2 linked regions of the Homo sapiens genome follow. The protein of the gene in region 2 interacts with the protein of the main gene of each other region in a pairwise test. Each region holds a gene or a part of one and is shown on either strand. Other genes may lie near its edges. The genes, in order: L3MBTL3 and PDE6G.

Evidence for each region.
Region 1: the proteins of PDE6G (region 2) and L3MBTL3 interact in binary tests that used the Homo sapiens proteins (3 or more experiments, as listed by UniProt).

The regions. Positions count from the first base shown.
Region 1 is NC_000006.12:130,067,063-130,070,880, reverse strand, and holds part of L3MBTL3 (lethal(3)malignant brain tumor-like protein 3), read right to left. Parts: intron 2,552-3,818; coding exon 2,460-2,551; intron 1-2,459. UniProt on the Homo sapiens protein: Is a negative regulator of Notch target genes expression, required for RBPJ-mediated transcriptional repression. It recruits KDM1A to Notch-responsive elements and promotes KDM1A-mediated H3K4me demethylation.
Region 2 is NC_000017.11:81,649,829-81,653,730, forward strand, and holds the end of PDE6G (retinal rod rhodopsin-sensitive cGMP 3',5'-cyclic phosphodiesterase subunit gamma), read right to left. Parts: intron 3,899-3,902; exon of another isoform or gene 3,830-3,898; intron 3,537-3,829; 5' UTR 3,478-3,536; coding exon 3,332-3,477; intron 1,858-3,331; coding exon 1,817-1,857; intron 1,323-1,816; coding exon 1,246-1,322; 3' UTR 631-1,245; downstream 1-630.

The sequences.
Region 1 (3,818 bases), on a different chromosome or scaffold from region 2:
CCACTGCTGTATTCACATAATTTAAAAATCATATGCCAGTTTCACAGCAGGGTCGCTTTCCAACAAGCCGCAAAAAAAAAAAAAAAAAAAAAAAAAAGGTCCTACTGTTACACCCAATTAGCTATCTGGGCCTCAAAACGAAAATATCCATCACCTCACAGAATTTAAAATAATTAATTTTAACATGTGTTTTGATGCCTTAATTAGAAAACTGTAATAGGTAGGCAAGTTTTATTCACCATATAGTTCACATTTTATCCTTCTTTTCTTGATTACAGACTTAACAATGAAAATTATTCACACAAAATATGCACTTAATCAAGTTAAAAATGTGCATGAGTCAGTACAAATTCACTCCCACTTCCGAAAATATCTCTCAAAAGAGTACTCTCGAAAGTAGGTCATCTTCATATATGAAAGGCTGCAAATTATTACAACTTTTACTCAACACTACAGATATATTTTATTCCTAATAGCAGCAAAAGAATTGGCTGTTGATGTACAAAGCTATTCAAAATAGTTGGTAACTTAAAGAAATCCACAGATAACCAGTCATTCAGAACATGGAACAAAAACAATGAAAGTTCTGTAAGAGTTAGTGCTTAAGGTACAGTAATATATAAAATCTCTTACAATCTTTTGTGAGGAATAATATCTTAATCTATCTATCTCTACATATTATAGACTAGTATATCTAGATACCAATTATGCAAATCACAACACACTACAAGTCATTCCTTCCCTAAAAACAAAACAAAACAAAACAAAAAACAAAAAACAAACAAAAACCTCTGTTAGACTCAATTATACAGATATTATTCTAACTACTTTAGGCAAAATAAATGCTATCTCTCATTTTACTATAATTATACAACTATCATTGCAAAAATGTAGACAGCCGTGTATCTGAAAATGTTAGAATAAGTTGTGTCTGAATGGATAGAACAGGCACTAATGCTATACAGAAATCTTTACTATGCATTTAAGTACTGAAATTTATCCGAGTTCTGATCATAAATGTTTGAGTATTCTGAGGTAATCTAGAAATGGAAAAATTAATTGTCTCTTAGATACGAAATGGAGAGCCCAAGATTAAGTTGTATGCTGGCAATGCATAGAATTTAGGAAGACCGTTCAAGGCAGTTAATCAAATCCCTGACTGAAGTCATCATCAGAGAACCAGACAGGGATTAGGAAACTTGGAGCAGAGACAGCAGGCTGCTAAGTTTTCCACCCAACTGACCTTCCTCCCTGGGATAAGTTTTGACAGAGAATACCAACTGACAATGCACTGTTACACTTTGGCAATTACACTATCCTCTCAATTAAGATGTTTTAAAATAATAAGCTGGCCCATTAACACTATTACTAACCTAAACACACATACGCATGCACACAAACACAATGTGTCAGTTCTGTAATCCAACCTGGTTTGTGTTTGATTAAATCAGAAAACATTTCAGCCATTAGATTGATGCTCTCAAACCAACTGGTTAACACTGTTTCCCAAATGAAGGATTTTTGGAGTGAGGAGGTTTCTCCTGCTCTTGATATTTATTTATTTCCATTTGAAGGGAATGCTGTTAGTGAAACATTACTGCTTCTCCCCACTGTCTCACTCACTGCTACCAGCCTGGTGACTCTGGAAAGGAGGAACTGATCATACTAGAGAGAAAGCTGGGCTGCAGGGTGCACAGTTTCCACTCTGCTCCTCAAGGGTCTAGTGTTCTCCAGGCTTGGGGGATGGGCGTGAAAGGCGAATTAAATCTCTTCCATTCTAGGGCTCAGAATCAAGCTTATTTGTCTGCAGATACAAGCCATGCACGTCCTCCAACTCAGCTCTGACCATCTGTAAAGATGGCATTTTGGTTTTCCACTGGCTTGCCCTTTATTCTTTCCAATTAGATCAGAACTTGGGAAAAGAAAAATGTCATGGATCAAGTCGGCCAATGGAGGAACATGTTATGGAAAGCAGGAATACCGGTCAAGTAGAAAAGACACGCACATCCAGATTTTGTTTTTGTTTACTGTAAACAAAGCTATAAGCTAGAGTGAAGATATGTCACAGTCTCCAGTGACCTCCTACATGTAAACTGAAACAGGGCTACCTTCATCTGGCTATGTGAATCCCATTTGAACAGCACTCCCATATAAGTGATAATAACAATAAAATATCTCAGCCAATTTAATTTTTTATGCATCTTAATTGTAAATCTCACCTGAATCTTGTACTATCTTGTCTTCTACTATGCAATAAAAGAGACAACCATAATATGGCTATAAAACATATTTGTTCATGAAGATTTTAAGCTAATTTTAAACTTTAATTAAGATAAGAGTACTCTATTTACCAAGGCGATAAAATTTATTATAGTTCCTTGTTATCACTTGTAATTGATCCTATGAGACACTCAAAAAACTTCTTCCTTTGAAAGAAAACGTGTTTCGTATGTACTTACTATATTCTGATTTTCAAATAATGACTTAGGAGCAGCTTGAGCTTTACATGTCTTAAGATAGGTCTGCCAATTGAATTCTTCTTCTTTATACCCTAGAGTAAGCACATATGAACAGATTGATTCAAATACCACAATATTTTACACTTAGTTTTCCAGTCCCACTTTTATCTCTAACATGCCAAAATCAATCAAATGACTTTTTAAATAAACAAAATTTAACTCATAATTCATAACTATGCATATTTAGACTATGTTTATTTTCAACAAACTGTATTATTATTTTCCAATTCTGAATGAATGGTAATGGATATAAAGAAAAGGAATAAGGAAACAAATATGTATTATACCCAGGACACTTATTATCAGGGTATTTGTACCAGTATTTAGGTAGAATTCCTCAGCGGTATAGATACTGAACTACAATAGTCAAAATTCTTTATTTTTCTCTCACCTAGTCTATTTTGGGAAGACTAACTTATAGGAACAAGTGGAAAGGTGGAAATAATAGAAATGAAACAGGTAAAATCTTTTTGGCCTATCACTTCAAGAAGGACAATTTAAGGTTTATGAAGTAAGGATGCTGGCAAATTACAATAAGGGAAATGTCCTCCCCTTAATTTTTACAATTTCATTGAAGTTAACATTTCCTTTAAAAAGGAAATTGAGCATCTTATTTTATCTGCGAATATGCTTTATTTTACATTCATTAAAGTCCAGAAAGCAGCATGAAAAAACCAGCTAATAATTTACCATATATAAGAGATCAATTCGTGAAAAGGCTTACAGATTTTCTTTTTCACCCTCACTTTTTCTATGCTATTTTGTTGAATCCTTCAGCTATCTGAAAATACCACTCTGCCATTATTTTTTCACTTAAAACAAAGGGATGGCTAATGCATTAAAGCCCTGAGACAGGCCAAAAATATCAACCCAGTAACCTGAATTTTTGACATAAACAAAAATCAATGTAATGATTGAAATAGAAGGGAATAAGATATTACTAAATATGGCCGGGCACGGTGGCTTACACCTGTAATCCCAGCACTTTGGGAGGCCAAGGTGGGCAGATCACTTGAGGCCAGAAGTTTGAGACCAGCCTGGCCAACATGGTGAAGCTCTGTCTCTAATAAAAACACAAAAATCAGCCAGGCATGGTGGCAGGCACCTGTAATCCCAGCTATTCGGGAGGCTGAGGTAGGAGAATCACTTGAACCTGCTAGGCAGTGGCTGCAGTGAGCCAATATCACACCACTGCACTGCAACCTGGGCGACACAGCAAGACTCCGTCTCAAAAAAAAATTAGGGAATACTTTAGGCAGACAGTGAAAAAGACGATATCTGTTATTCTTGAACTTTGAT
Region 2 (3,902 bases):
CCTGACCTCGTGATCTGCCTGCCTCAGCCTCCCAAAGTGCTGGGATTATAGGCGTGAGCCACCGCACCCAGCCTATTGTTATTTTCAAATACAGACAGGGTCTTGCTATGTTGCCCAGGCTGGTCTTGAACTCCTGGACTGCAGTGATCCTCCCGCCTTGGCCTCCTAAAGTGCTGAGATTATAGGCATGAGCCACTGTGCCCAGATACAGCCAGTTTTAGTGGGCACTGTCTAAGGACGAGCTGGCTGGGTGCTCTGGGGGAGTTGCTAGTGTCACTGTGCCTCAGTTTCTCTCTTGTGAGGTGGGAGTAGGAGCTCCGGCCTCACGGCGTGTGGTGTAAGCCATGTCCAGTCTCACCTTCTCTGTGTGGCCTGTTCCAGCCACCTGCATGCTTCATTGACTATGGCCCCTGGGTGTGCACCAAGGCCTTCTGCCTTGACCCAGCCATGGCCTGACATTGCGTGTCTTGGGGCCACCAGCAAGGCTCAGTGAGAGTGTGAGCCCAAGGGCTGTCTTCCCACTCAGGCAGGCCAGCCCCTCCTGCCCCACTGCCCACCCCTTCCCCCATGTGCTCCGGCTCAAGTGACCCCACCACAGGCCCTGTCCCATGCACAAATATGCCACAGACAGGCAAGGACACACTAATTTTATTTTGAAATAGGGACTGCAAGGGCAGGCTGTATTGAGAAGGATGGCCCCCTGGTGTGATGAGCTTGGGGCCTCATCTGCTCACCGTGCACGCCCTGGAGTCCTGCTACCCAGCATGTCCAAACTAAGGGCACCCCCCTGGGAAGGGATGCAGAGACGGGGAGCTTCTCTGTATCCCCTTACAGGCAGGACAGGGGGCTGGGGTGCAGAAGCACTCTGGGGAGACCTGCCCTAGCTTTCCAGCTGGGAGGAGGGGACGATCTGGGGTCCAGCAGGCTCCCGGGCTGGGGTCCACTTCCCGTTCTCCCTGGGAGTGGAGACCGACCAAGCCTCTCTGTGGGCAGGACTGAGGGGTGGGCCTGTATCTCCAGATGTTGAGCAGGGCCTGGCCAGCCCCTGAGGGGGCATCCTAGAGGGAGGTGGTGGGCTCCTGGTGACTGGTATTAATATGTAGGGGGAGACCTGAGGTTGCAGTCCCATCCTGGTGTCCAGGTGCCATCTGGGCTAGGGAGGCATCTCCTCAACAGGAATCCTGAGCAGGGTTTAGAGCACAGTGGGCAGGAGGGGGAGGGTCTGGACTTCAGCAGGGCCTCGTGCTAGATGATGCCATATTGGGCCAGCTCGTGCAGCTCCAGGTGGTTGAAGGCCTCCCAAGGGCAGATGACTGTGATGTCTGTGGGAGAAACGGGCCACGGATCAGAGAGGATCCCACGGCCTAGGGACCCCCCCATCCCCTGTGGCCCTGTTTCCCACAGCCCAGGTGTAGCCCTACAGTGTGCTGAGCGGGGACGTGCGGACGCTGGAGTGGGGCCCTCCTCTGGGGACACACTGGCTGTGGGGGAAGGAGGGTGGGTGCAGCAGGTCCAGGGGAGGGAACCAGAGGAGGGTGGGGCTTGCTGAAGGGGGAGGAGGCAGCGAGGGGTTCTGTTCTTTCCCAAACCCCTCCCCTCACCTGGTGCAAGTGTCCCAAATGGGGACAGCCCCACCCTCTAGATCCAGTGGATCTGGAGCTCAGTGTTGGGGGAAGAAGTGATGGACAGGCTGGGGGTCCCTAAGTGAAAAGCAGGGGAGGTGGGGGCCGAGGTGGGCTGCAATGGGCCCCGGGCGTGCTGGGTGTGCCTGGGGGGACCTGGGCAGACCTCGGGTTGGTACTGGCAGCCGTCATACCTGTTCCCAGGCCTTCCATTCCAGGGATGTCGTCCCCAAACCTGCAAGGACAGAGCACTCAGGGACATGGCCGGGCCCAGTCCTGGCTCAGTCAGCCTGAGGCCCGAGGTCATCTCTAGCCTTCCTAGGAGATGAGGTGTTTGGCTGGGAGCCCAGTGGGCAGAGACCCGCCTCCTCCCCAACCTCCCAGGGCTTGGCGCATCTGAGGAGGCTTCCCTCACAGACCCAGGGTGAGTCTGCTGCCCAGAGCATCATGGGGCTGAGGCCTAGAAAAGGAGGTGCAAGTCCCAGGATGCTGGGCAGGTGCGTGCCCTGGGGGAGTACGGGGGGGTGCGTGGTTGGTGCATGGTCTGAGTGTAGATTTGTGAAGGTGGCTTGTCTGTGAGTGTGCCTCACGTGCATATGTGGAGGTGTGAGCGTGTTTGTGCATAAGAGTGTCATGCCCGTGTGTGCGCACACGTGTGAGTGGACACTCCTCGGTGCGTTGATGGGAGCGCGGTGCCTGTGTGCGCACACGAGTGAGTGGACACTCCTCGGTGCACTGATGGGAGCGAGATGCCCGTGTGTGCGCATGTGTGAGTGGACACTCCTCGGTGCATTGTGCCATGGCTGTCCCTGGGTGGCAGTGGTTGTATTTTTTTTATTTATTTGAGACGGAGTCTCACTCTGTCGCCCAGGCTGGAGTGCAGTGGCGTGATCTCGGCTCACCGCAAGCTCTGCCTCCCGGGTTCACACCATTCTCCTGCCTCAGCCTCCCGAGTAGCTGGGACTACAGGCGCCCGCCACCACGCCCGGCTAATTTTTTGTATTTTTTAGTAGAGACAGGGTTTCACCTTCTTAGCCAGAATGGTCTCGATCTCCTGACCTCGTGATCCGCCCGCCTCGGCCTCCCAAAGTGCTGGGATTACAGGCATGAGCCACCGCCCCCGGCCGTTTTGTTTTTTTGAGACGGAGTTTTGTTCTTCTTGTTGCCCAGCCTGGAGTGCAATGGCGCGATCTCAGCTCACCACAACCTCTGCCTCCTGGATTCAAGCGATTCTCCTGCCTCAGCCTCCTGAGTAGCTGGGATTACAGGCGTGCACCACCACGCCTGGCTAAATTTGTATTTTTAGTAGAGACAGGTTTCTCCATGTTTGTCAGGCTGGTCTCAAACTCGCGATCCTAGGGGGCTACTTTGGCAGGTATTAAAACTTTTTTTTAGGCCGGGCGCGACCTCAGGTGATCTGCCCACCTCAGCCTCCCAAAGCGCTGAGCCACCGCGCCTGGCCGGCAGTGGCTGTATTTTCAAGCATGGTTGGCAGTAGCATCTGGAGCGGGTGACAGGAGCCCCCAATTCCCCTTCCCCCTCCTCCATCCCTGCTCAGGCCCTCAGGCACCGCCCTACCTTCCCCAGCTGTGAGGCTGGGACCACTCACCCAGTGAAGTGGCCCCAGGCTCTGCCCCGCCCTCCCCTTCCTGTGCAGCCTCAGGACCGCCTCCTCCCTTTCAGAGGCCCCATCCCCCAGCTCTGCTTACCCTTGAACGCCTTTCTTTGGGGGCTTGCTCTTGAACTGCCTGGTCTGTCGCTGCTTAAATTTAGGGGGCCCTTTCCTGGGGGTGACAGGTCCCCCGGCCACCCTGGTGGCTGACCGGAACTCAGCCTTGGGCGGTTCCAGGTTCATGGTGAGGCTGACGGAGACACCGCGGCAACCTTGGCTCCTGGACTCCCTCCTGCTGCGGTCTGGGGGCAGACCAGGCCCGGGTCCCAGTCAGCCCTCCTGCTTCCAACCCTTGTGGGGGTCTCAACCCACCGGTGGAGGGGCTGAGACCCAGCCCCGCCAGCTCCAGCGTCATCCAGACAGCAGCCCCTGCAATCCGCCCTGGGGTAACCAGCCTGCCAGCTTTGCTTGGGTCCACCCGCACGCTCCCATTCCCCTTGCCTAGTGGATGCCCCCCTGCAACGCTGGCCACACACAGCTCCGGACTCCCCCCTGTCCTGGCCTCCCTCGCCCCGGCCCACAATCCACAGCAAACCTAGCCTCCCAACCTGTGGCAGGTCCTGAGCCTGGAGTCCTCACCACCTCCCTGTGGGTGACCACTGACAACT